4 linked regions of the Homo sapiens genome follow. The protein of the gene in region 2 purifies or fractionates together with the protein of the main gene of each other region. This does not show direct contact. Each region holds a gene or a part of one and is shown on either strand. Other genes may lie near its edges. The genes, in order: PAICS, DGKE, PDHA1 and IFT46.

Region 1 (8,333 bases), on a different chromosome or scaffold from region 2:
TTAGGGATTTTAGTAATAAAGCAAATCTCCTACTGAAACAATATTGACCCTCATAAACTGCAGAATATCAGATCATATCTTGGACTATGATGAACGAACCACAACACTGTTACGTGATCCAGTTCCATCAGCCAAAAGGGGACTTCCTTATGTTATTATCTTTTATCCCCAATTTTTTATTTTGAGACCGAGTCTCACTCTGTTGCCCAGTTTGGAATCCATTGGTACAATCTTGACTCACCTCTGCCTCCCAGGTTCAAGCGATTCTCCTACCTCAGCCTCTGAGTAGCTGGGATTACAGATGCTCACCACCATGCCTAGGTAATTTTTGTATTTTTAGTAGAGATGGGGTTTCACCATATTGGCCAGGCAGGTCTTGAACTCCTGACCTCCAGAGATCTGCCCACTTCAGCCTCCCAAAGTGCTGGGATGACAGGCATGAGCCACTGCACCCAGCCTTATCCCCAATATTTAAGAATAAAATTGTATTCTCTCTACAGAAGTAACATGATCACATTTACTTTAAAAAAAAAAATCAATACCATGAATTCTTGGGAAAAAAATATCTAAACTTGATTTTATTACAGATCTCACCATCAGTTTATAGAAAATATAGGGAATGGAAGAGCATGTTTACCACCACCTAGAAATGTAAGAAGCCAAATCCAAAATATAGAAAATTCTATTGAAAAAATGAAAGGGAAAAAGGGAGGATGAATTGTTATATATTTAAAAAATCAAGAGATTATCAACTAAATGCAATATAAGGACTGTGGTGGATCTGAACAAACAGATGAGACAATTAGAAAACTTGGACCCCAACTAAAAATTATACCTTAAGAAACTACCACTAGTCTTTCTTAGGTGTGAATATGGTATTGAAACTGTGTCCCCAAGAGTTAAAAGATACCAACAACTAACAGAAATTCCTGAGTTTGCAGAATGGTAGATTAAACAATATGGCCAACTAGAGTCTGCACAGAACCAGCTTACTGATGTCACAGGCCCAATTTCCACCACAATTCATTCTAACTCCCCCAAATTTACACACGTGATCCATGAAATAACATGAAGAGATAACTGCACATGCCCAAGGACTTTCTAGACCTCCCCTTTCCTTCCACCAATCACCTACTAATCCCAGAATCTATCCCCTAAACCTTTTCTAATAAAATTGCTGCCTTAAAGCCAGCACAGATTTGAGCTGGACTCATGTCTCCTTGTTGGTCAACTTGAAAGAGGAAGCCTTTCTTTCTCAAAAACCTGGTGGCTTAGATAGTACTGGTTTCTAATGCATCAGATAGTGGGCTCCTTTTGTTCTATAACAATATCATGATTATGATTTAAAAACTAGAGCCTGTATTACTTAAACATATACTTAAGTATAAATTACTATAACGTCTAAGATCTGCTTTAAAATAATCCAGCAGGAGATGGCTGTAGACACAACAAGATGTTAATTGCTGAAGCTAGGTCATGGGTACATGAGATTTTATTATGCTATTCTGTCTACTGTTGTGCATCTGTTAAATGCTTGTAATGAACAGTTTTTAAAAATTCAATGTATCTTACCACTGGGTAGTCGAAGAGAAGACCACACATCCTGAACTCCCCAGTCTGGTGTGAGGGGAGGACAGCTGATAACTGGATATGCAGTGTTCCCAGACATCACTGGTCCCAAACCATTACTTCTGCCTGCCACTGCCACAAATACAGTAGGAATGCCATCCCCTAGGGAAATGACAAGAGTATAATTATGCTAAACATTCAAAACAGATTTAAAGACAGGGTTTTTTTTTTTTTTTGGTTTAAGGCCTATATGTTTTAATTACTTGAGGTCCTTGAATAGTCTTCTCTGAAAAAACATAAAAGATACTATTATTACACATATATTCAAAACATAAGGTTACTCTGCCACTTACTATAAGTCAAGTAATAAAGTAGCTGGAATCGGTTTGGTTGTTTTTGAGATCTACATTATAAAGGGGATAGCAGGGTGTCAGTGAGGGAATAGCTCATAGGCCTCTTCTATTGCTGTATAGGCTGGCCAAAGTGAAGAATGACACCATCTGAACAGGTGTCTTTCTTGACTGGGTGGTCCCTCAACTGGTGCAGGGAGAACCAGTTAATATAAACTAGGGGTTTAGGGACACGTCTTCAAACAAGAGTTGAAGGAAAGTTTAATTAATATAGTGTCCCCCAAATTTTAAGGCCCTTTGATACATTTTTTAACATAATCTCTTAAGCAATTCATTCTTTGATAAATTTATAAATTATCCTCCTGTTTCCTAAAGCAGAGATTTGTTAACCTAGAATCCAAAATTGTATGTATTTGCAATTTTCTGAAAAGAGTTCTAGAATTCATTAGCTATCAAAGGAGTCTGAGTTCCCCCAACCTCCCACTCCCCCAAAATTAGTAACTACACTTCCATAGCAACAACCTGTACACGAAATAATCAACATTTTTTTCCAGTTGAGAAACATTTGGTTGTAAACCCAGGGCTCCATTATTTTAGATCACTGCTATACCATTATTTTTTATGTACTATATTCTGAAACTGTTCTTTAATTTCCTATCTGACTGCCTCCCAGGAAAGGGTGGCAACTAAAGATTCCCGGGAGAACCGGCTATTTTAACCTCCCGCCTCCTGTAACTGTGGGGGCCTATTTTCTATTGGAGTATATTAGAAGCAATGCTCCAGGGGCTTCTTACCAGGTAAGGATGCCAGAGGTTCTCATCATTCTAGTCTTTGTTTTCTTTTCATACTTGCATTTTTAATTATTTCTCCCTGCTCCTTTCTTTTCTAAGCTTCTAGAATACCTTAAGCTCTTTGGAGGTGAGTATTAAGAAAGCCTAGCGGCCAGGCGTGGTGGCTCATGCCTGTAATCCCAGCACTTTGGGAGGCCAAGGCAGGCGGATCATGAGATCAGGTCAAGACCATCCTGGCTAACACAGTGAAACCCCGTCTCTATTAAAAATACAAAAAATTAGCCGGGCATGGTGGTGGGCGCCTGTAGTCCCAGCTACTTGGGAGGCTGAGGCAGGAGAATGGTGTGAACCCGGGAGGTGGAGCTTGCAGTGAGCTGAGATGGCGCCACTGTACTCCAGCCTGGGCGACAGAGTGAGACTCCATCTCAAAAAAAAAGAAAGCCTAGTATATCATGTGTTTTTCCCTTAGAAAACTGACAAAGCTCTTTTTTCAGCATTATTAGTCTAAAGTGTGTAATTACTTTTAGCAAAATCAGAAATACCTGAAATGTCCATATTACTTGTGGTTTACCTTCATACTCAGCTTTAATCCTCAGAGTTTCATCTGGTCCTTTATGCGCAGATGTTACTCGAAGTTCACATGGAATGCCAAAATTTCCACAGGCCTTCTTGATTTTTTCACAGTGACCAAGATCAGAAGTAGAGCCCATCAACACTACAACCCTGCACTGACTTTCTGATTTCAAAAGCAACTGAAGAAAAAATACGTGGATATGAAAAGAACATAAAAACAAAAATGAATAAATGAGCTAGAGTTTGTAGTAAAATTATATCTGGGCCCAATATTTTCTTTCTTAACAGATCAAATTTAAGACAGAGACAAACAACAAAAAGACAGGATTTATTTTTAAAAATCTCAATATATAAAGGAAAGTGGTCTTCATCAAGACCTAAAGAATTCAATTTTTATCAGACAAATTATTTAAAATAAACAGTAAAGATACTCAAAATCTTTTAATTTTCAGGAAATTATAATACAAAATATTTCATCCTAAGACCTTTAGTGCACTTTGTTTAATGGAAGCTTTAAGGTATGATTAGCCAAATCAGAAGTCATGTTCTAAGTCTTTGTAAGTTAATTGCTTGTAACTCAAAATATATATTCCTATAAGAATAATGTTCTCAAATGTGATTATGACCCTTGCATAATCACAAACCCCATTCAACTCCCAGAATTATAGTAATACCATAAAACTTAAAGGAATATTTAAAGTCACACAGAGTTCCATCCATCCCATGCTAATGGAACTCTGACTAGCAGTGCAGGTGAGTAGGAAATATAAGGTTTCTCCTACGGGGTAGGGAGGAGACAGATTCCAGGTTTCCCCAACAGGATCTGGGAGGTATGTATTGGCCAGCTTAACAGCACGGAGTTCCAGTATCCTAGTAAGGATAGCCCAGCTGATACATTTCCTAAAAGTGTTCCTCACTTTCAAAGTCACTGAAGAGCTGGGCGTGGTGGCTCACGCCTGTAATCCCGGCACTTTGGGAGGCCGAGGCAGGGGGATCACGAGGTCAGGAGATCAAGACCATCCTGGCTAACACGGTGAAACCCCGTCTCTACTAAAAATACAAAAAATTAGCTGGGCGTGGTGGCCAGCGCCTGTAGTCCCAGCTACTCGGGAGGCTGAGCTAGGAGAATGGCGTGAACCCGGGAGGCGGAGCTTGCAGTGAGCTGAGATGGCGCCACTGCACTCCAGCCTGGGCGACAGAGCAAGACTCCGTCTCAAAAAAAACAACAACAAAAAACAAAGTCACTGAAAAGAAAAGCACTATACTCTCCCATTTTTTTTTCTTTTGAAACAAGATTTTCTTAGAAGAAAAACACATAATACATACAGTTTTACTATAGAAGGTTTACCTCTACTCTCTCTGCAACCCACTCAAAGTTTTTCTTTACCATTTGGAGCCCTTCAGGAGTTACTTCTTTGAGGTCCCGATAAGACTAGAAAATAAGATAGAAAGTTTAGAAAACAAGTATCTCTTGCTACCTGAAACTATTTGGTTTCTGAGTTTTGGGGAGGGATTATGAAGAGTTTGTATAGCAAGGGATACTTCTGAAAATGCATCTTTTCACTTCCTGAATTAAACTAACAAAGTTCCATAGTAAAGTATACTTTTATTTTCACTTAAGGTTAAGTGTTTTCTGTACTAGCAACTACAATTAACTGCCTTGAGAATTTTTATATATTAAGTATAGAAAGGGTCTTGCTCTAATTTTGTTTTCTGTTATTTTTTATTTTAAATACATGTGCAGAATGTGCAGGTTTGTTACATAGGTATACATGTGCCATGGTAGTTTGCTGCACCCATCAACCTGTCATCTAGGTTTTAAGCCCCATATGCATTAGGTATTTCTCCTAATGCTCTCCCTCCCCTTGCTCCCCACCCTGCAACAGGCCCCGGTGTGTGTTGTTCCCCTCCCTGTGTCCATGTGTTTTCAGTGTTCAACTCCCACTTATGAGTGAGAACATGTGGTGTTTGGTTTTCCGTTCCTGTGTTAGTTTGCTGAGGATGATGGCTTCTAGCTGAATCCATTTCCCTGCAAAGGACATGATCTCATTCTTTTTCTTTCTTTTTTTTTTTTTGGAGACAGAGTCTCGCTCTGTCAACCAGGTTGGAGTGCAGTGGCACAATCTCGGCTCACTGCAACCTCCACCTCCCGGGTTCAAACAATTCTCTGCCTCAGCCTTCCGAGAAGCTGGGATTACAGGTGCCCACCACCATGCCTGGCTAATTTTTTTTTTTTTTTTTTTTTGAGACAAGGTTTCACTATCTTGGCCTGGTCTTGAACTCCTGACCTTGTCATCCACCTGCCTTGGCCTCCCAAAGTGCTGGGATTATAGGTGTGAGCCACCGCGCCTGGCCAATCTCATTCTTTTTTATGGCTGCATAGTATTCCATGGTGTGTGTATATCACATTTTCTTTATCCAGTCTAACACTGATGGGCATTTGGGTTGGTTCCATGTCTTTGCTATTGTAAATAGTGCTGCTCCTGTGCACGTGTCTTTACAGTAGAATGATTTATATTCCTTTGGGTATATACCCAGTAATGGGATTGCTGGGTCAAATGGTATTTCTGGTTCTAGATCCTTGAGGAATCACCACACTGTCTTCCACAATGGCTGAACTAATTTGCATTCCCACCAACAGTGTAAAAGCGTTCCTATTTCTTCATAGCCTCTCCAGCATCTGTTGTTTCCTGACTTTTTTAAAACAGCCATTCTGACTGGTGTGAGATGGTATCTCATTGTGGTTTAGGTTTGCATTTCTCTAATGATCAGTGATGATGAGCTTTTTTTCATGTTTGTTGGCTGCATAAATGTCTTCTTTTGAGAAGTGTCTGTTGTTTTATATAGGAGCAGAAATGTGGCCTGGTAACATGCAGGAGACTTGGAATAGAGTCCCAGATCTGTCCCTGACTCTAGTAATTGTGAAGATACCCATCCTCTTAAGACCCTTAGTTTTCATTTAGCCAAACAAAGATAATACTTGCTGTTACTGTTGTGACAATGTTATTAAGATAACAGATGAGAAATTTGCTTTATAAATGTAAAGTATTATTCCTATTATTCTTCTATTAGGATACCAGAGACATTTATCTTTAAAAATAAACAGCAATCCACAAAACAGGTTCATATCATTAGGAACAATAATTTGCTTTTTCCCCTCATCTCTCCTTTCTCCTCTATCTCAGCTTGATCTCAAAAAGGATAAAAAAACCTGAAGCATTATCTACCTGTTTGTCTTTCTGTTGGCTTCGATCTCCTGATGGCCAGAGTCTCCAGGAATCATTGTCAATAACATCAGCAAGAACAATTTCTTTGGTGGTTACATCAACACCAAATTCAATCTGGAAACAGCATGTCAACAAAGTTTTCAAAAACTATTTTATGAAAGCATCTCTCAACTATAACCTTTACTTTCAAATCCTGTTGTTTTATCTGTACTTGTTTTATCTGTACCTTCATATCAACCAGTGTACAATTCTGGGGCAACCAGGATTTCTCCAGTATTTCAAATATAGCCTGTGTAGCATGACTCATGATATCCACTTCAGTCTGGCCTATAAGAAGTCCAGCAAAGCAAAATTTTGCAGCAATCAGCTGTTCCTCAGACCACTGTGGGTCATTATTGGCATCATCCTGTGAATAAAGTATAGTAGTACAATTAACTTCAATCTAAAATTTTTAAACTTTTCAGAAAAACCAACATCCTTTTCACCTTGAGCATGAACTCCTTAGAAATTTTTAGCCACAGCCGGGCATGGTGGCTCATGCCTGTAATCCCAGCACTTTAGGGGGCTGAGGTGGGCGGATCACAAGATCAGGAGTTCGAGACCAGCCTGGCCAACACAGTGAAACCCTGTCTACTAAAATTACAAAAAATTAGCTGGGTGTGGTGGTGTGCACCTGTAATCCCAGCTACTTGGGAGGCTGAGGCAGGAGAATCATTTAAACCCGGGAGGTGGAGGTTGCAGTGAGCTGAGAGAGCGCCACTGCACTCTAGCCTAAGCAACAGAGGGAGACTCCATCTCAAAAAAAAAAAAAAAAAAGAAAAGAAATTTTGATCCAGGTGCAGTGGCTCACACTGTAGTCCCAGTAATTTAGGAGGCTGAAGCAGGAGGATCGCTTGAGCCTAGGAGTTCAAGAGCAGCCTGGGCAACAAAATGAGACATCTAAAGAAATTTTTTGTTTACGATACTCCTTAATTCAAAGCAATTATTACTCCTCTTTTTTTTCCTAGTTAGCTCCTGCAAGCAGAAAAAACTATTACTCTTAATTTGTTTACTCTCAATAGCACTTTAAAATTCAAAGTATTTAGGTGAGTAACTTATTCTAGGTCACAAAGTATTTCAAAGAATTTAACCTCTATAAACCAATTTAAACAGAATTTAAGTTTGTGATTTTTGTTTTTCCTTAATAACAGTCATCAGACATGACAGGAAGGCCAAAGCACATTTTAATCAATCAAATCTTTCCAAAACCACCGTTCTCATAACCTCCCAACCTCACTTTTTATTAGAATTTATACAGCACTATAATTTTTTAGGGACATTATTTGATAATTCAAGAGACCTCAGACAAAGAGGTAAGTGAAAAAAATGAAATAATTTCATTTTATTCTCAGCAGTGTCCCAACTTTACATGACAATATCTTTATAAATTCTTGATCTATATAATCATAATACACACAAGTTACATAACTCATTGATTAAAAAGCAAGACTGATATTGCTTCCCAAGCAGATCTATGCTTAACAGCATAAATCAAGATGGTTAAAAGCAGTAAAGCCTACAAAATTCATAACCACTGATTCTTACAACCTTTATTTATATATTTTCACTTACAAGAGACATTGTTAGTATAGTTTTCCTGTATTAGAATATAAAAAGATTTCAACTAAATTTTAAAAAAATTAACTAAATGTTACTTTTCTCTTCTTCCTGTTAGTCATCTTGGTTCAAAGGTAAGATTTTCAGATGCTTTCTTTTTAAAATTTGATTTATCATTGTTAATGGAAGTGTACATTATTGACATTGGCAACTAGATAAGACAAATT
Region 2 (7,291 bases):
GATTATAAAATAAAAAGTAAAAGCATGTGACACCTAACTGTACAATAAATGTGTGAAGCTGTTTAAGTCCAAACATGGATCATTACATGTAAGATGGCCTATGTGTGAACATCAGCAGCTATCACAGCCACGTTCACATATATGTAAATTATCAAGGGGCATTACGCTTGGCACTGTTTAAAAGAAAGCAGGCAAGTGATCAAGTGAATTTTTATTACAAAAATTTTATAAAAATGGATTTCCAGGTAAAGATGGCAGAATAAAGCAGGACTACAGAATATTCTTCCTCTAATGCCTAATAAAATGAATAAAAGATGTTACATGCCACAGTACATTTTTCAGATCGTTACTGATAAATCAGAAAGCTTTATGAAAATCCAGATGGAAGGAAACACACAGTTCTGCCATGCATATTAAGATGCATTCACTCTCCTGCCCTAATAATTATCATATAACCTTATGGTAGACGATAGTCAATTAGTTGCCAACCAATACTTAAAAATTAGATTTCATATACTCTAAACTTCTGTCTTTTCTAGAAAAATAAATTGTTTACACTAGGCCTGCTTCCCAGGAATCATGTGCTCCAGTTTACCGAAGTCTCTACAACTCTTACCTTCGTTGCTTGCCCAGCTCCTGTAAGCACTTGCAACCCGTAGGTGGGCATTAATTCCCATTCTTACAGAGAAAGAAAATTTGAGGCTCAGGAAGAACAAGTGTTAAGTTACAGTAGTAGAGGCTGGGTTTCCATTCAGGTATTTCAAATAAGTGATACATTTTTCCATACTCTACCAACTGAAAATAAGGTGAATTCACCTTTGATCCCACTTACTGCTCTACTCTGCCAGGAGCCAGTTTATATGCGTGAGAATGAATGTTTCTCCTAACACACGTGTATGATTCTGTGCTCTTAGGCTACAAAAGCCATGCAATATGAATTTTTTATTCTTTCTGTCTAAAAGTATGTGATCAGAACTTGCCACATATATGTTTGCCCTGCTGTAGACCAAGAACCACTTTTTGGGACACTAAGTCAAAGCTGCTTATTGTATCTCATGGTTGTGTCAAAAAACTACACAGTATCATACTTACGTGCTGCACTTTTAATTTTATTAAAAAAGAAGCAAGTATCTTCAACATACCAAATGCTTTCACATTTCTGCCTGCAGGCACTGACCACAAAAATACAGACCCAACACAACAAAAGCAATTAACACAAGATAATTAAGTGGTAGTTACAAGTGGTGGGCAGGGGAAAGTGCAAGAGGCCAGCTGGCTGAGCAAGTGGAGTCATCACATGTGTCCTCAACATTGTGGGTTTAGGGATCCAGTGCAATCAGTTCACTTCTAAGAGGACTGGGGTTGAGGACTCGAGCTAGGCTGCTCTAAACTTGTACAAACAGAATTACAAATCAGAGTGCCAATTTATCTGTAGGGTTTGTTTAAGCAGTTCAGATCTGAAAGACTGCTGGCAGAGCCCTGAACTGGACTGAGAACAAACGTTTTTATGAGCCATCATCATCCACCTCCACAAAGTGCCTGCCTTACTCTAGGGTTTTTCTCAGCCAAATCTACTCATCTGATCAGGATGCCCTCTTGCCTGGACAATGTCAGAGGAACAAGGAAAACAACTGAGCTTTCCAGCTCTTCCTTTTCAACATTCCATGTTAGTCACCAAAAAGTAACACATAATGGAAATTCTCTAGATTACAGCTTATTTCCTGTTTAGTGCATTCTGTGTTGATGTCGTCCTTTAACAGTGAGGTAGCTCAGGGCATCCTTAGAGAGACTGAAGTGTTCTTGGTCTGATATCTGATACCAGCAACACATTTCTTTCTTTTTTTTTTTTTTTGAGATGGAGTCTCACTCTTTGGCCCAGGCCCCACTGCAGTGGCACTATCTCGGCTCGCTGCAAGCTCCGCCTCCCTGCAAGCTCTGCCTCCCGGGTTCACGCCATTCTCCTGCCTCAGCCTCCCGAGTAGCTGGGACTACAGGTGCCCGCCACCATGCCCGGCTAAATTTTTGGATTTTTAGTAGAGGCGGGGTGTCACCGTGTTAGCCAGGATAGTCTCGATCTCCTGACCTCGTGATCCACCTGCCTCAGCCTCCCAAAGTGCTGGGATTACAGGCGTGAGCCACCACGCCCGGCCTTTTTTTTTTTGAGATGGAGTCTTGCTCTGTTGCCCAGGCTGGAGTGCAGTCATGTGATCTCCGCTCACTGCAAGCTCTGCCGCCTGGGTTCGAGCAATTCTCGTGCCTCAGCCTCCTGATTAGCTGGGATTAAAGGCATGTGCCAATGTACCTGGCTAATTTTTTTTGTATTTTTAGTAGAGACGGCGTTTCACCATGTTGACCAGGCTTGTCTCAAACTCCTGACCTCAGGTGATACGCCTCCCTTAGCCCCCCAAGTGCTGGGATTACAGGTGTGAGCCACCGTGCCCAGCCTCAGCAGCACATTTCTATTTATAGTTTCTAGGTGATTTATTTTCTGCAGACTTTCTTGCATATGGTTAAGCCCAATCATTTCATTTAAGTTTTATAAACGTCTGTATTAGAGGATGGCATTTTAAAATTCTTTCCCCAGAACCCTGGAATGTACCTTTCTGGGCTATGCAAGCCTCATGCACTGACTACACAGGGCCACATGGGTAAATATATATGTATTGATGTGTATTTACATATCAAAAATTAAATAGACTATATGCTTAAATTAGAAACACAAAGAACAAAGGCTAAGTTCACTGCTTTACTATTCAATAAAATAGCTTTAAAAACTGTGAAACAGCCAAGTGGCCACATTCTAAACAGCGACGGAGACCTCCAAAATATTCTGTCCACCAAAAAAACACGAAGTTTCTGAATATGTAAAAATTAGTAGAAAATCAATTAGGTGACAAAGTCATTATAGTAGTGGCTTTCAAACCCTTTATAAAAAATAGCAGAATCATTTTAAATGTGGAATTATTTTATCTACTGAGATCTGAAGCAGCACTCAGTATACACAAGTGTGGCTGCATTGACTGCAGTGAGAAGGCAGGCGCCTCCATGGCTCACTGCCCCTTGGAGGCGCACTGCACTAACTCCTGAAGCAACTCCTTGTCCCCCAACACTGCATGGGTCACAGTCCAAAAACTGATTCCACATATGAATCATACCAATTTTTATGTAACAGAGTTCAGACAAATATATCAATTTGGGTATGATACAAATAAGTTTTTCATAGAGTTCTTTTAGAAAAGTGATTTTGAGGGAAGAGGACAGCGGAGTAGAAGAAAAACAATTTTAAGAACATACAATTAATTCAATTTTTCGGCATGGTATCCCACCTAGCAAAAGCCCTAGGTGAATACATGAGGTTCAGACCAGAAGCTTTCAAATTTCAGTATGCTTAAGAATCGCCTGAGGCGCTTGTTAATAAAAACAGAGATTTCTATGTTGCATCTCCAGAGACAGGGAATCATTAAGTTAAGGGTTGGGCTCAGGAATCCATACTTTCAACAGCCTGCCCAGGCATTCTGATGCTGCAGATAGCCTGCAGCGCGTACTCTGAAGAACAAGAGAAAGGCTTCAAGGGAAAAATTGAAAAAGACAGGGGGACACTGTTTAAAAGCAAAACCCAAACCACCTTTTCTGTCTTGTTGCTGAGAATGAATTCAGATTGGGATAAACAACCTTTTCTTTCTTTTTAAATATCTAGATATTTTAAATATATCTACTTATATTCCACTGTCCTCAACTGGGTAGAAATATTAAAAAAATTATCAATATAAAATGCTGGTTCTTGCTTCAATATTATCATTTTGAAGGAAAACCACACAAAACCATTACCCATTCTAATGACTTTTTTGGCCAAATTATGTATTTGGGTCCACATTAATCATTAAATTAGTATAACCTTTAAAGTTTTCAAGTTAGTGCAAATTTAAAATTCAATAAATATATTAAATACAATTTTACTTTATATTACAAATGTAAATTATTTTTCTTTTGACATGCTGGTAGTATTCATTTTTACAACGCAAACTGACTTTACAATTTCTGAGTCACAGTATATTTTATAACTCTAAGCAAATGTATTTCACAAAGCAAACACTATATGTTTTTGACATACTCTAAAAAAATAAAAATAAATAATTTTGATTATAAAATTTGTATAAACTTAGCTACATTAGGGGTTCACAGCTAATTGTTGCAGAAAACCTAAAACACACCTAAATCATGTAACTTTACTAGCAGACAACTTGTATTTTAAAACACAAGTCAGTTTGATTTCTATTAAACATGACGAAACACTGAAAATTATCATCATCTGCCTAAGGGATCTTTAAGAGCTGCCAGGTATTCAGTATTTAAGCCACTACGTTTATAGGAATTAGGAATGTATTGGGATAGTAAAAAGATTAGAGAAATCTGGAAACAGACATGGAGATATGATTTACTTCATGTATTTCTTCCTGAGAATGTAGAAGTTATTTTTTTAAATATCAAGACAATTTAAAATGGAACAGGAAAATCTTATGGCAATTTTTTTTGGTAAAGTGTAGAATCCCTGGTAATATAAACAATCACTACCCTAATATGTAACTTGCAAACATGAAGTCTTATAAATTGTACTTAAACAAGGCACATGCCTATACACTTATTTGAAATGCTGGGTAAATGTGCCCAAAAAGTAAGTGAATTTTGCAAAAACAAGATAATGATACATTTTATGAGATGGTATTCTGAAATAGCTTCCCTAAATGAAGTCTAAATAAGTGAATAAGCCAGCAGAAAAACTTCATGACAGACCAGTAGTGATGCAAAAACCTTACTAGATTACAATAACCAAAAAATCAACTTATTTAGATAAATGAGGGCATTTTACATAAGCCTGTTCTAAATACAGTGTAATATTATGGTTGGTATTAAAATTATAATTTTTAATTGTAGTTTTCACAATTAAAAAGCTGTATTAGTTATTGTGATTATTTTCGTTCCAACATCCTAAATTGATTTGCTTCTACTACAATTAGCACTACGAATTATATAACAGGTAAACTATAACCTACAGCAAAGTGGATTTAACAGTGTATTTATAAAATGTGATGTCTTTAACAATTTTGATCATGAATGAAAGGATAAACTTCATAATACTCAGAACATGATTGGCCCATTAAAAAAAAAAAAAACAAAACTCTGCCATCCTCACTGCCATGGTTACTTACCATGAAAGGTATATAAAGAAGCTGAAAACAGATCTGCTCACAAAGTTTCTCAAGACTAGAATTTAAGATCACCTGAGGAGATCTGCAAGAGGTTAATTTAGCAAAATAGAGTATTTCATAAAATGTACTGACTACTGTATACATTACTAAGTTGCTCTTTGAAAACATGGTCTGGGCCTGAGGTGAGGCAAACTTAGGTTTATGGCAATTCATGGATGACAGATTCATAATAGACCCTCAAAGATAGCTAATGGTATTTTGGGGGATACATTCTGATCTTTCAGAGATTAATGTCATGAAAGACCACAAAGCCTGGGCCATGTGTCAGAAAAACACCAGGCTGGATGCCCTCTGGGTCAGCCGACCTGTGGGTCACGACCCTTGGGCTGGTCAACAGCAGCGAACAAGCACCCTCTAATGGGAACCATGAAACTAGCCCTTCAGTAAGTTTGTGGCAATTGAGGGGCAAATAAAACAATGAAACAAAGCTTTCAGTTATCCAAAAGTAGTTCCCTAGTGCTTTTCATGCCCTCCTTCATTTTTCAATACAATGAGGAATATTTGTGAAGAATAAGAATATCTAGATTTCTGTCAGGAGAATTAAATTAGAATTTTAATTAATAGACTAAATTTCTATCTGATTGTGACTAGCAGAATTTATGTGATCAATTTAACTTATTAAATAAAGCTACAGAACGTAAACACTAAACACAGGTACCATACCACAAGGTAAATAATAAATAATTTAAAAATATATCTCTCTCATTTTAAAATAAATATGATATAAACATTTTAGCAAAGATTTCTGTCCACTTACCTCCCTAAGGGGAAATTCTGTTAAAAGACTACTGTATTTCAAAATACTACAAGACCACCAAATTTTTAAAACTTATCAGTCAGCCTTGAGCTTTTTCTAAGCAATTAATCTCACCGTTGTCTCCTTTAAGCACGTTTTTTGAAGTGTTGACACTGTCTTTTAATAAAAAGAGCGGCTGATAAACAGTTCAGCTCAGAACCTATAACTTACAATCCCAAGTGCTCTGAATCTTATTTCTTACCAATTCACTTATCTGTTTCTCTTTTGGCTACACTGGTGTTATAAAAAAGATCCTGAATTGCAGCTCAAATGGTTACCTACAGAATTAAACAACATTTACGTGTCTGAATAAGTTCCTAAAATAAAAATTGTAATACAAATTTTAAGTATGATCTTTTTTTACTATTCTCCTTTTGGGGGTTCCTAGAAATCAATACATACACTTGGTTTGGGTTGTAGAAAATCTTAAGGGGCATGCTGCAGGAGGATGCTCACAATTAACCATGCTGGTTTGACAGTAATCATTTCCTTTCAAAAAAGCAGGTTAATTTGATCTTTCCACCCACACCTTGTTGGAGATATAATGTGTCCATCCATTGTGTGTCCATCATATGCATGGTTCAAAAATAAGACATGAGACAGCACATACTTCAGAGTGAGTCCCACTCTCAAAACAGTCATAACAAATTTTCACTCTCATGTAAGTTTTTGTGACTTTTTGTAAGTTAATACTATTCATTTGAAGTATTTTGCTGAAAAAAGAACAAACATTTGTAAATAACTGAAGGCTGGCTGGTTTGGGGATGCTATTTACAAAAATGTATACCCATTATACTACTAGTGAAATTAAGACTGAATAGCTGATAGAGAATTTCTATTAATACTTTTGGATGAACATGTATCTACTTGCGTGAGGATTCTATGCAAAGTTTTCACTCCCTCATCCATCTATTCAGTCGCCTTTATATCTTCTTGATCCGAAGTACTAGAGATGTCATCATCTGTTTGTTCTCCAGAGAAATATAACATCATTGCATGTGTCTTGTGAGTTATGGTGACAGTGCAGGGCCCTTGGGCCCAAGGCTCCCCATCCACCTGCATTGGCATCATGGAGCACTTCAAAATCAGCTGATATTAGGGAACAAATAATGTTTAAAAGTCAGTCCCCCCAAATTTAGAAAGGTCTTCCTTAATAATACCATCCACAATCCCTTAACCCTTATGCATTTCATTTTTAGAAAATATTAATCTGAATATGTTTTTATTC
Region 3 (4,118 bases), on a different chromosome or scaffold from region 2:
CCACATGGCACCAACTGGCTGGAACCAAGTCATGGCATTCCTCTGGGTAGGGCATGCTGGTGCCAGTTCAGCATGAGTCCCTGTCACCATTTTCTGTTTTGTATACCTAGCCTTCTTCACTCATTTATTCTACCTGGCTGGCCCTTGTAGGTATTTGACTCTAACCCTTGACCTAAGCCCACAAAACAAAAAACAAACTAATCCTTTCTCTCCAAATTATATACAGTACAGGCGATCATAGTGCCAGAAAGTTTTAAAATAGTAAAACTCTAAGAACAGGTACAGAAAACTGGCAATGTTATGTGTGAATGAATTCTTTAGCCTAAGCTTCATAGCAGGTTTTGGCATTCTACTTTTTAATTCTAAAATACTGGCTTCAGCCAGGCACAGTGGCTCACGCCTGTAATCCTAGCACCTTGGGAGGCCAAGGTGGGCGGACCACTTGAGCCCAGAAGTTTGAGACTAGCCTGGGCAACATAGTGAAACCCCGTATCTCCAAAAAATACAAAAATTAGCTGGGTGTGTTGGTGTGCACCTGTGGTCCCACATACTCGGGAGGCTGAGGTGGGAGGATTGCTTGAGCCCAGTGGACAGAGGCTGCAGTGAGCCAAGATCACACTGTACTCTAACCAGAGGCTGCAGTGAGCCAAGATCACCACTGTACTCTAACCTGGGCGACAGAGAGAGACTGTCTCAAAAAAATAAATAAATAAAAGAAAATTACATTACCAGCCTCAAACTCTTCTGATACATATGGCAGGGTAAAGCCCAATAAGTACAAGCCATACTTCAGTACCTAAATAACACAGTTCCACCACAAACCTACCACTCACCTGACCATCACACAAGTGACAGAAACCACGAATAATTTTCTGTTTATACAGCTGATCTGCTTTCAACTCCATTCGGCGTACAGTCTGCATCATCCTGTAGTATTTGAGCCCATCCTCCCTGGTGAGCACTGTTGTGACAGGAGGGCCTTCTTCCAGCCGGTGAAGGTCACATTTCTGAAATGGAATAAGGTAGTTATTATCCTCCACATACTACATTGCAAACACTGTTGACCACTCTAAGATCTAACTCCATTGCAAATAATATTGAACTTGAAAAACTGCAAAGGAGCACATCAGTAATGCTTCATATCGCCTCTGTTCCTTAAATCCATAAACCTCACTGTGCAATGAGATGGGGCTTGGGGGAAGGAAATCTTTCTAAGATGATTTTCACTGAAAGCCCCTAGAAGCCAACTGAGTTATAGGTTGAAAGAACCTTCAAAGAAACAACTAAGACTCTTCTTATTCAAATATTTCACTGAATTACATTCCAAACTTTTGAATAAGCTTTTATTTTTATTTTCATTTTCTAGCTCCTCCCCCTTCCCCCCACAGAACAACAGCAAGCTGCTAATAATAAATTCTAGTTTTCGTGAAGCTTCTCTGAACTTCTGATCCTGGAACATTTAGAAGAAAATGATGACTAAGCATGAACATCAAAATGTTCTATTCTAAAGGTAAAACTGTATATCAGAGTGTACCTGTGAAAAAATTATTAACAAAGTAAAACACCTCTTACCTTAATTTCAAATGTAGCATCATTTGCAAAATTACGGGATGCTACCAGCACTCTGCTTGCCTTAAAAGACAAAAATATACAAACAAATCAGTACTTTTTAATTGTCAGCTATTTTGGAAAGTATAATAATCAGTTATCAGAATGAAGTTATGGAAATTTAATAAGCCCCAACATATTCATAGGCTTCTCTTCCACCCTGTGCACTGTGTTTGCATCTTCCTTGGCCTCCAAAATGAATCCATGCTTTGGCCAATGAAACAGGATTATCCCGCATCTGAAGGCAAGCAGCGCAAAGAGGGGCAAAAAACAAACCCATCCTTTGTTTTCAAAGAAATTATAGTGAGAATATAATGAAATTAGTGGCTAAAGAGACTAGATCATCTGTGAGCTGTGTCTGTTTATGCCATTCTTTTGTTTGTTTGTTTTGAGACGGAGTTTTGCTTTTATCACCCAGGCTGGAGTGCAGTGGTGCGATCTCGGCTCACTGCAACCTCCGCTTCCCGGGTTCAAGTGATTTCTCCTGTCTCAGTCTCCCGAGTAGCTGGGATTACAGGTGCCCACCACCACGCCCGGCTAATTTTTATATTTTTAGTAGAGATGGGGTTTCACCATGTTGGCCAGGCTGGTCTCCAACTCCTGACCTCAGGTGATCCACCTGCCTTGGCCTCCCAAAGTACTGGGATTGCAGGCATGAGCCACTGCGTCTGGCCTTTTCATGCCATTCTTAGTCATAACCAGATACTGTTCATTTTGAGCAAGCCAAAATTATACTTCAAATAAAACTATGATTTAATCTCCACTCTAGGCAAACTTGACTCTTCTATCAAATTGGATCTGTAAGAAAAAATATTTTAAATTGATTGAAGTATGAGATAAATACTTTAGGGAGACAAGACAAAAGAAAAGATACTTAGCACTCTCTGACTTAAACACAATGGGCTTGAGCCAGCTGTTTTATAATTTATAATTTGAACAGCCTAAATCTTGGACAGGCTCCTCCTGAAGCCCCAGTAGAAATGTTCTCTGAAACACTGTTCTCTTGATGTTTGGGTGGCTGTCACTGTTTGGAGGTAAAAAGCTTGGAGGCGGGGGGTGAGAAATGATTCCTTTCCAGTTTTACAACTGAGCAAACCTGCTCACAGCAAAAGTATTCTATGTAATGGCTAAGGTTTAGGTTAGACCACAAAATTTATCCAGTAGTATTATCATACTATTTTAGCTCCCTTCTGCCACATTCTCACACACTGACGTGTAAACCAACATGATTTCTCCATAAAAAGCACATCTGATGTGTTCATACCTTACCTAATCCAGCACTGGACTGATCTTGGTGAGAAGAGTTAAGACTGATCTGCCAAGTATACCCTGGAGTGTACAAGCCAATAGGCAGAAAGCTAATTACGTATATCTTCACCCCTCAATAGACCATTATTGGACAAAGCCAACAAACACAGACAATGACAGTGCTGGAGGAAAACAACTGAAATACTAGGAATCAGTGTTTCAGTTAACTTACAGGCAGAGACAGTCCACTAATGTATCTCAGAAAAAGTGAAGGAAATTTAGGAATTTGGGAAGAAGTAAAGCTGAGAGAAGGTGAAACAGCAAATCAATGGTTATATTTAGCAATCAAACAGATGTGTTATTCTTGGCAGTTAATAAATATTTTGTGGGGCCAGAAATTTATTGTATTGTGAAATAAATTTCCAAATACAACTACAGAAACTGCAGTTTTTGGAAGGCAGGAGTCCAAACCAGCCAGGCGACAGTAACAGAGAAAAGGTAACTTCTTTCTCAATCCTAGAGTTGAAACAATGAGGCAGGATAATGCTATACAATAAAGAGCAAGAAGGGGCCCAGTGCTGTGGCATGCGCCTGTAATCTTGCGCCTGCAAAGATTAGGACTGCCAGAAAGCTACTTAGATACTTTCTCCCATGGCTTCATTACTGTGTATCTCAAAAATAAGAACCACTGATATGAGTGAAAGGAACAAAGTTAAAGAAGCTAAAAGTCCTATCAGAAGTGTGTGTGTATCATTTCTGAGTGAGAGCTTGTTGAAAAGATAAGTTTACCATTCATTTTCTCTGGAGAGCCATAAAAAGATTCTCTGTTAAATGGGATTCCTCTCTGACAGAGACCACGAACAACCCACTCAAATTTTAAAAAATAAAAACTAGGCCGGGCATGATGGCTCACACCTATAATCCCCAGCACTTTGGGAGGCCAGGGTGGGAGGACCACTTGAAGCCAGGAGTTCAAAGCCAGCCTGGGCAACATGAGACTCTCATCTCTACAAAAATAAATATTAAAAAATTAGTCAGGTATGGTGGCACACACCTGAGGCTACAGTGAGCTATGACTGTGCCACTGCATTCCAGCCTAAAAAAAAAAATTAATTAAAAAAAAGTAAAACTTTAACTTCCTAAATACATAGGAACCATTCATGTGAAAGAGGAAAAACGTTTCAAAAATTCCAGATTCTAACAGTGTAAATTAAAACTCTTACCTACCACTTATAAAGCCAAAACATTGCTAGTAAAGATCT
Region 4 (5,273 bases), on a different chromosome or scaffold from region 2:
CACCACACCCAGCTAATTTTTTGTATTCTTAGTAGAGACGGGGTTTCACCATGTTGGCCCGGATGGCCTCGATCTCCTGACCTTGTGATCCACCCACCTCGGCCTCCCAAAGTGTTGGGATTACAGGCGTGAGCCACCGCACCAAGCCTATGCCACGTTTTTTAATTCATTCATTTGTTAATGGACACTCGGGTTGTTTTCATATTTTGGCTATTGTGAATAACACTGCTATGAACAGAGGTGTACAAGTGTCCATTTGAGTCCCTGTTTTCAATTCTTTGGGACCTAGCCACCTAGGTTTTTGACTTGAGCGTGTTTATGCTCTTGACAGCTGTGGATATTATAATTTGTTTTTAATTTGGGCTAATTTAGTAAATAAAAAAAGGGTTTAATTTGCATTTATTTGATATAGAAATCATTTATCATGTTTTCATTCCAGTTAATGCCTTACATCTAATTATACTTTTATTTTAATTTAATTTTTTATTTATAGAGACAGAGTTTTGCTCTGTCACCCAGGCTGGAGTGCGGTAGCATGATCACGGTTCACTGCAGCCTCGACCTCCTGGGCTCATGCAGTCCTCCTGCTTCAGAACCCCCGGTAGCTGGGACTACCAGCCCATGCCCCCATGTCCAGCTAATTTTTTTTTTTTTTGAGATGGAGTCTTGCTCTGTCGCCCAGGCTGGAGTGCAATGGCGTGATCTCGGCCCACTGCAACCTCAACCTCCCAGGTTCAAGCGATTCTCCTGCCTCAGCCTCCTGAGTAGCTGGGATTATAGGAGTGTGCCACCACACCTGGCTAATTTTTTTGTATTTTTAGTAGAGACGGGGTTTCACCATGTTGGCCAGGCTGGTCTCGAACTCCTGACCTCAGGTGATCCACCCGCCTCAGCCTCCCAAAGTGCTGGGATTACAGGCAGGAGCCACTGTGCCCGGCCTAATTTTTGTATTTTTTGTAGAGACAGGGTTTCACCGTGTTGCCCAGGCTGGTCTTGAACTCCTAGGCTCAAGCAATCTGCCTGCCTCCGCCTCTTAGAGTGCTGGGATTACAGGTGTGAGCCACTGCGCCTGTCATTAATTATCCTTTTAATTGTTCAGAATATTTAAAAATTGCTCTTATCTTTGCATACTGATTCGGATTCAAACTTGTGACTATTATTTGCCAGGCCCTGGGTCAGTTCCTTGCACATAAATTTTTTCACTTGATCCTTATAAGAGGCCTGGGTTAGAAATATTAGTGACCCCATTTAGAGGTGGGAATACTGAGACTCAAAGAGGTTAAATCTTTTTTTTTTCTGTCCATATGTTTATCGTCTTTATCTGAAAAATCTTTATAGAAAATTGTTTGGTTTAGCTCTCAGCAGCCTGCTCCTGAGCTCTGAGGGAGCTTGCCTTCTTTTAAGCTACCTGATGTTTCTTCTGAGCAAGGGACATTTTGGGACAGTTCCACCTATTCTTTTTAACTTCTTTCTTGGGCCTCTTTTCATAGACTGGATTCTCTCATATAGCAGCATGAGCTTTCTTATACATCTCTTCCATCATGTCTGGAGTTACGCTCTTCTTTATGCATTGAGAGAACTGGTTCTTGTAAGCATCTTCATCTTCTTCTGTTAAGTAGTGCATGTAATCTGCAACATTCTGGCCCATGATGTGCTTCTGGTGTACTTCTGCATTAAATTCCTTGCTTTCAGAATCATAACTAGGGAATCGTTTGGTACTGTGAGGGACAGACAAGCCTCCATCCACAGCTCCCTTCAGGGTGCCAAAAACTTTATTGCCAGTGGTAGTTCTGGCAAGACCTGTATCCAAATAGCAGGTAAAGGCACCTGGCTGACCATCAATGCTTTCCACATTGTATTCATTGCCAGTCTCCTCCACTTGGCCTTCATAGATCTTGTCCATGCCAAACCTATTGGGAAGCCTGCGGGCCAGCAGCAGGCCAGTACAATAAGTTGCAGCATAATTTGTCAGGCCAACCTTCACACCACATTTTGGCAGTTTGTGTGCATATGCTGCGCAGACTATATCCCCCTCTATACGGGCATAAGCAGTCTGACAAATGATATCTCTGTTTGTTACACGAACTATCATCTTATATTTGGGTGTGTTGTATTTATTTTTATCCTGTATCACCAAGCATTTCTGAGGATAGTAACCAGTTTTACCCTCTCGTCGTCTTCTAAATTTCACTTGGTATCTCTTAAAGTAGGCTTTATTCTTAACAACTTTAATAAACCCCATTCTGCGGAACAGAGACCCGCGTTTGCGGCTCGACAGAGACCTGCCGGCCCAGCAGTGCTAGGGGGTGAAAAGGCAAAATCATTTTAAGTAATTTTTCTTCAAACCCACTCTTAGTATGAATTCAGCACTCTGTACTTTACTAGTTATTAACCTAATTTGACTAATGTGTAAACTAAGGGCAGAGTGTATATTTTTCTCTTTCTTTTCTTTTCCCCCTCCCCTCCCCTCCCCTCCCCTCCCCTCCCTTCCCCTCCCATTCCGTTTCTGACAGGCTCTCACTCTGTTGCCCGGGCTGGAGTGCAGCAGCATGAACACTGGACACTGCTCACTGCAGCCTCGAACTCCTGGGTTTAAGCAGACCTCCTGCGTCAGCCTCCCGAGTAGCTGGGACCACAGGCGCATGGCATCACACCCAGCTAATTTTTTTTCTTTTTTTTTTTTTGTAGATGGGATCTTGCCATATTGTCCAGTCTAGGCTCAAACTCCTGGGCTCAAGTGATCCTCCTGCCTCCCCTTCCCAAAGTGTTGGGATTATAGGCATGAGCCACTGCCCCTGGCCAGAGTTTATATTATTTATGTAATGGCAGATAATTTGAATAGTATAATGTCTAACCCAATGCCTTAAGCACAGTAATGTTTAGTAAATATATCTTGAATTGAACTGGCAGAGCCATGACTAGAATTCAGTCTCCTGTCTCTTTAGCCAGATGTTCCAATAAACCTTGTTTTATAAAATGGTTAGAGCATAAAATATTAAAAACTAAAAAATACTTGTTTTTAAAAATCATTTTAACAATAATCTAAAGGAAAAACTTTTTTTCTAAGGACTTCCTCGTTCTGCCCATCTTCCTAACAAGGCTATGGCTGATAACAGCAGTGATGAGTGTGAAGAGGAAAATAACAAGGTACAGTAAAACTCACAGCTTCTTGTAGAATTTCTGCTTTGGGTTTTTAGTAGTTAGAGATGACACCAGTTCAACGGTAAACATTTCTTGAACACTCACCTCCAGGGGTTAGGGACCTTTGAGCTCATGGAGGAAAATCAGTTACAAAGAGCCTTGAGATTTTGACCCTTCTTCAGGAATAAAGCCTACTACTACAATTGACTTTGGTGAGGAATTTCACATAATGTAGGCCAGTGTTTCACAAACTTTCCTGATCATAATACTCAACTGAGGTACTTATTTTTAAATATACGGATTCCCAGTCCCAGCCCAGAATCTCAAAAGTAAAAGCCTGGGAATTTATATTTTTTAGGAAGCAGTCCAGGTAATTTTATGCTAAAGCGAGTTTGAAATTATCAGTCTAGGCATTTTTTCATTGTCAATACTTGTGATACTGCCAGTATTTTGTGAAGGAGATTTTAATTTTGAGGTCTTAAGACCCAGATGTTGGCTGCTGTTATTCTGTGTACCTAGAGAATCACCCTGCTTCTGAAAGAAACATGGCAAGAGGCCCACCTCTCTAGAAACATATAGGACCTTAGAGTTGCACATATGATTTCTTAAAAACCGTTTATGTTGGCCGGGTGTGGTGGCGCACTCCTGTAATCCCAGCACTTTGGGAGGCCGAGGCGGGCGGATCACCTGAGGTCAGGAGTTTGAGACCAGACTGTCCAACATGGCGAAACCCCATCTCTAATAAAAATACAAAAAATTAGCTGGGCGTGGTGGCGGGTGCCTGTAATCCCAGCTACTTGGGAGGCCTCCCAAGGTGCTGGGATTACAGGCACAAGCCACTGTGCCCAGCCTGTTTTTTTTGTTTGTTTTTTTTTTTTGAGACAGAGTCTTGCTCTTTCACCCAGGCTGGAGTGCAGTGATCTTGACTCACTGCAACCTCTGCCTCTTGGGTTCAAGCAATTCTCATGCCTCAGCCTCCCGAGTAGCTGGGGGATCACAGGCCTGCACCAACTCGCCTGGCTAATTTTTGTATTTTTAGTAGAGATGGGGTTTTGCCATGTTGGCCACACTGGTCTTGAACTCCTGACCTCAGGTGATCCTCCTGCCTTGGCCTTCCAAAGTGCTGGGATTACAGGTGTGAGCCACTGTACCCAGCCTGATGGCTGCATTTTAATGGTTTTTGTTTTTGTTTTGAGACAGAGTCATCTCGCTCTGTTGCCTAAGCTGGAGTGTAGTGGCATGACCTCAGCTCGCTGCAACCTCCGCCTCCAGGGTTCAAGCAATTCTCCTGCCTCAGCCTCCTGAGTAGCTGGGATTACAGGCGTGCGCCACCACGCCTGGCTAATTTTTGTATTTTTGGTAGAGATGGGGTTTCACCATGTTGGTCAGGCTGGTCTCGAACTCCTGACCACATGATCCGCCTGCTTCGGTCTCCCAAAGTGCTGGGATTACAGGCATGAGCCACCACCCCGGGCTGACAATATTCTTAAAAGTTCCCTCTGCCAAAACTGCTTCCTATGTGACTAAGGATAATTTTGGCAAATCTTGAATTGAGAAAGAATGCTCTAGAAAGTTCTTATCAGTCATATACTAATAAGGCATAGTCACTGAATAAATTCTGCAACTGTGTTTCATTATCTGCCATGCATATTACAGCTTAGTTAGAATATACTTTATGTATAATAAATTTGTTATTCTTAGAGCAAAATGTGACTAAAAGCAGTTTTTGGTGTCCTGTAACGTGTCACAATTTTGTGTGCCAATAGCTGCTTTACCATAAAAACAAATTAATTTTAAACAACTGGAATCAAACGTGTTAACCTCAGTATAAGCCATACGGTATATAGAAACCAAGTTTTGAAAACCTACTTTTAAAGGGGGCCAATTGGTCATCCTTCAGGTCCTAAGGGAGGGCATGCCACAGGCTCCAGGCCACAGAGGCAAAGACATGGACCCTGTTCCACCTGCCCCTGCAAGTCTCAAGTGCCACCAGACCCCTTCTCATGTACTTGAGAGGGTGGGATGGTACAGAGAGAGCCAGAAGCACAGAAAGGTAGGTTATAATGTCAAGAACAAAAGAGCTGTTTATCTTGAGAGAGAATGTGTAGTCATTTTATGTAATTTATGGGGTA

The links.
Region 1: the proteins of DGKE (region 2) and PAICS purify together in Homo sapiens (affinity purification with mass spectrometry; one large-scale study listed by BioGRID and IntAct). This does not show direct contact.
Region 3: the proteins of DGKE (region 2) and PDHA1 purify together in Homo sapiens (affinity purification with mass spectrometry; one large-scale study listed by BioGRID and IntAct). This does not show direct contact.
Region 4: the proteins of DGKE (region 2) and IFT46 purify together in Homo sapiens (affinity purification with mass spectrometry; one large-scale study listed by BioGRID and IntAct). This does not show direct contact.

What each region holds. Positions count from the first base shown.
Region 1 is NC_000004.12:56,447,001-56,455,333, reverse strand, and holds part of PAICS (bifunctional phosphoribosylaminoimidazole carboxylase/phosphoribosylaminoimidazole succinocarboxamide synthetase), read right to left. Parts: intron 6,917-8,333; coding exon 6,737-6,916; intron 6,625-6,736; coding exon 6,511-6,624; intron 4,716-6,510; coding exon 4,632-4,715; intron 3,463-4,631; coding exon 3,282-3,462; intron 1,732-3,281; coding exon 1,573-1,731; intron 1-1,572. UniProt on the Homo sapiens protein: Bifunctional phosphoribosylaminoimidazole carboxylase and phosphoribosylaminoimidazole succinocarboxamide synthetase catalyzing two reactions of the de novo purine biosynthetic pathway.
Region 2 is NC_000017.11:56,862,473-56,869,763, reverse strand, and holds the end of DGKE (diacylglycerol kinase epsilon), read right to left. Parts: exon of another isoform or gene 7,269-7,291; intron 7,153-7,268; coding exon 6,973-7,152; 3' UTR 197-6,972; downstream 1-196. UniProt on the Homo sapiens protein: Membrane-bound diacylglycerol kinase that converts diacylglycerol/DAG into phosphatidic acid/phosphatidate/PA and regulates the respective levels of these two bioactive lipids.
Region 3 is NC_000023.11:19,346,826-19,350,943, reverse strand, and holds part of PDHA1 (pyruvate dehydrogenase E1 component subunit alpha, somatic form, mitochondrial isoform 1 precursor), read right to left. Parts: intron 1,633-4,118; coding exon 1,573-1,632; intron 1,008-1,572; coding exon 834-1,007; intron 1-833. UniProt on the Homo sapiens protein: The pyruvate dehydrogenase complex catalyzes the overall conversion of pyruvate to acetyl-CoA and CO(2), and thereby links the glycolytic pathway to the tricarboxylic cycle.
Region 4 is NC_000011.10:118,557,659-118,562,931, reverse strand, and holds part of IFT46 (intraflagellar transport protein 46 homolog), read left to right. Parts: intron 1-1,293; exon of another isoform or gene 1,294-2,315; intron 2,316-3,067; 5' UTR 3,068-3,102; coding exon 3,103-3,147; intron 3,148-5,041; coding exon of another isoform or gene 5,042-5,194; intron 5,195-5,273. UniProt on the Homo sapiens protein: Forms part of a complex involved in intraflagellar transport (IFT), the bi-directional movement of particles required for the assembly, maintenance and functioning of primary cilia. May play a role in chondrocyte maturation and skeletogenesis.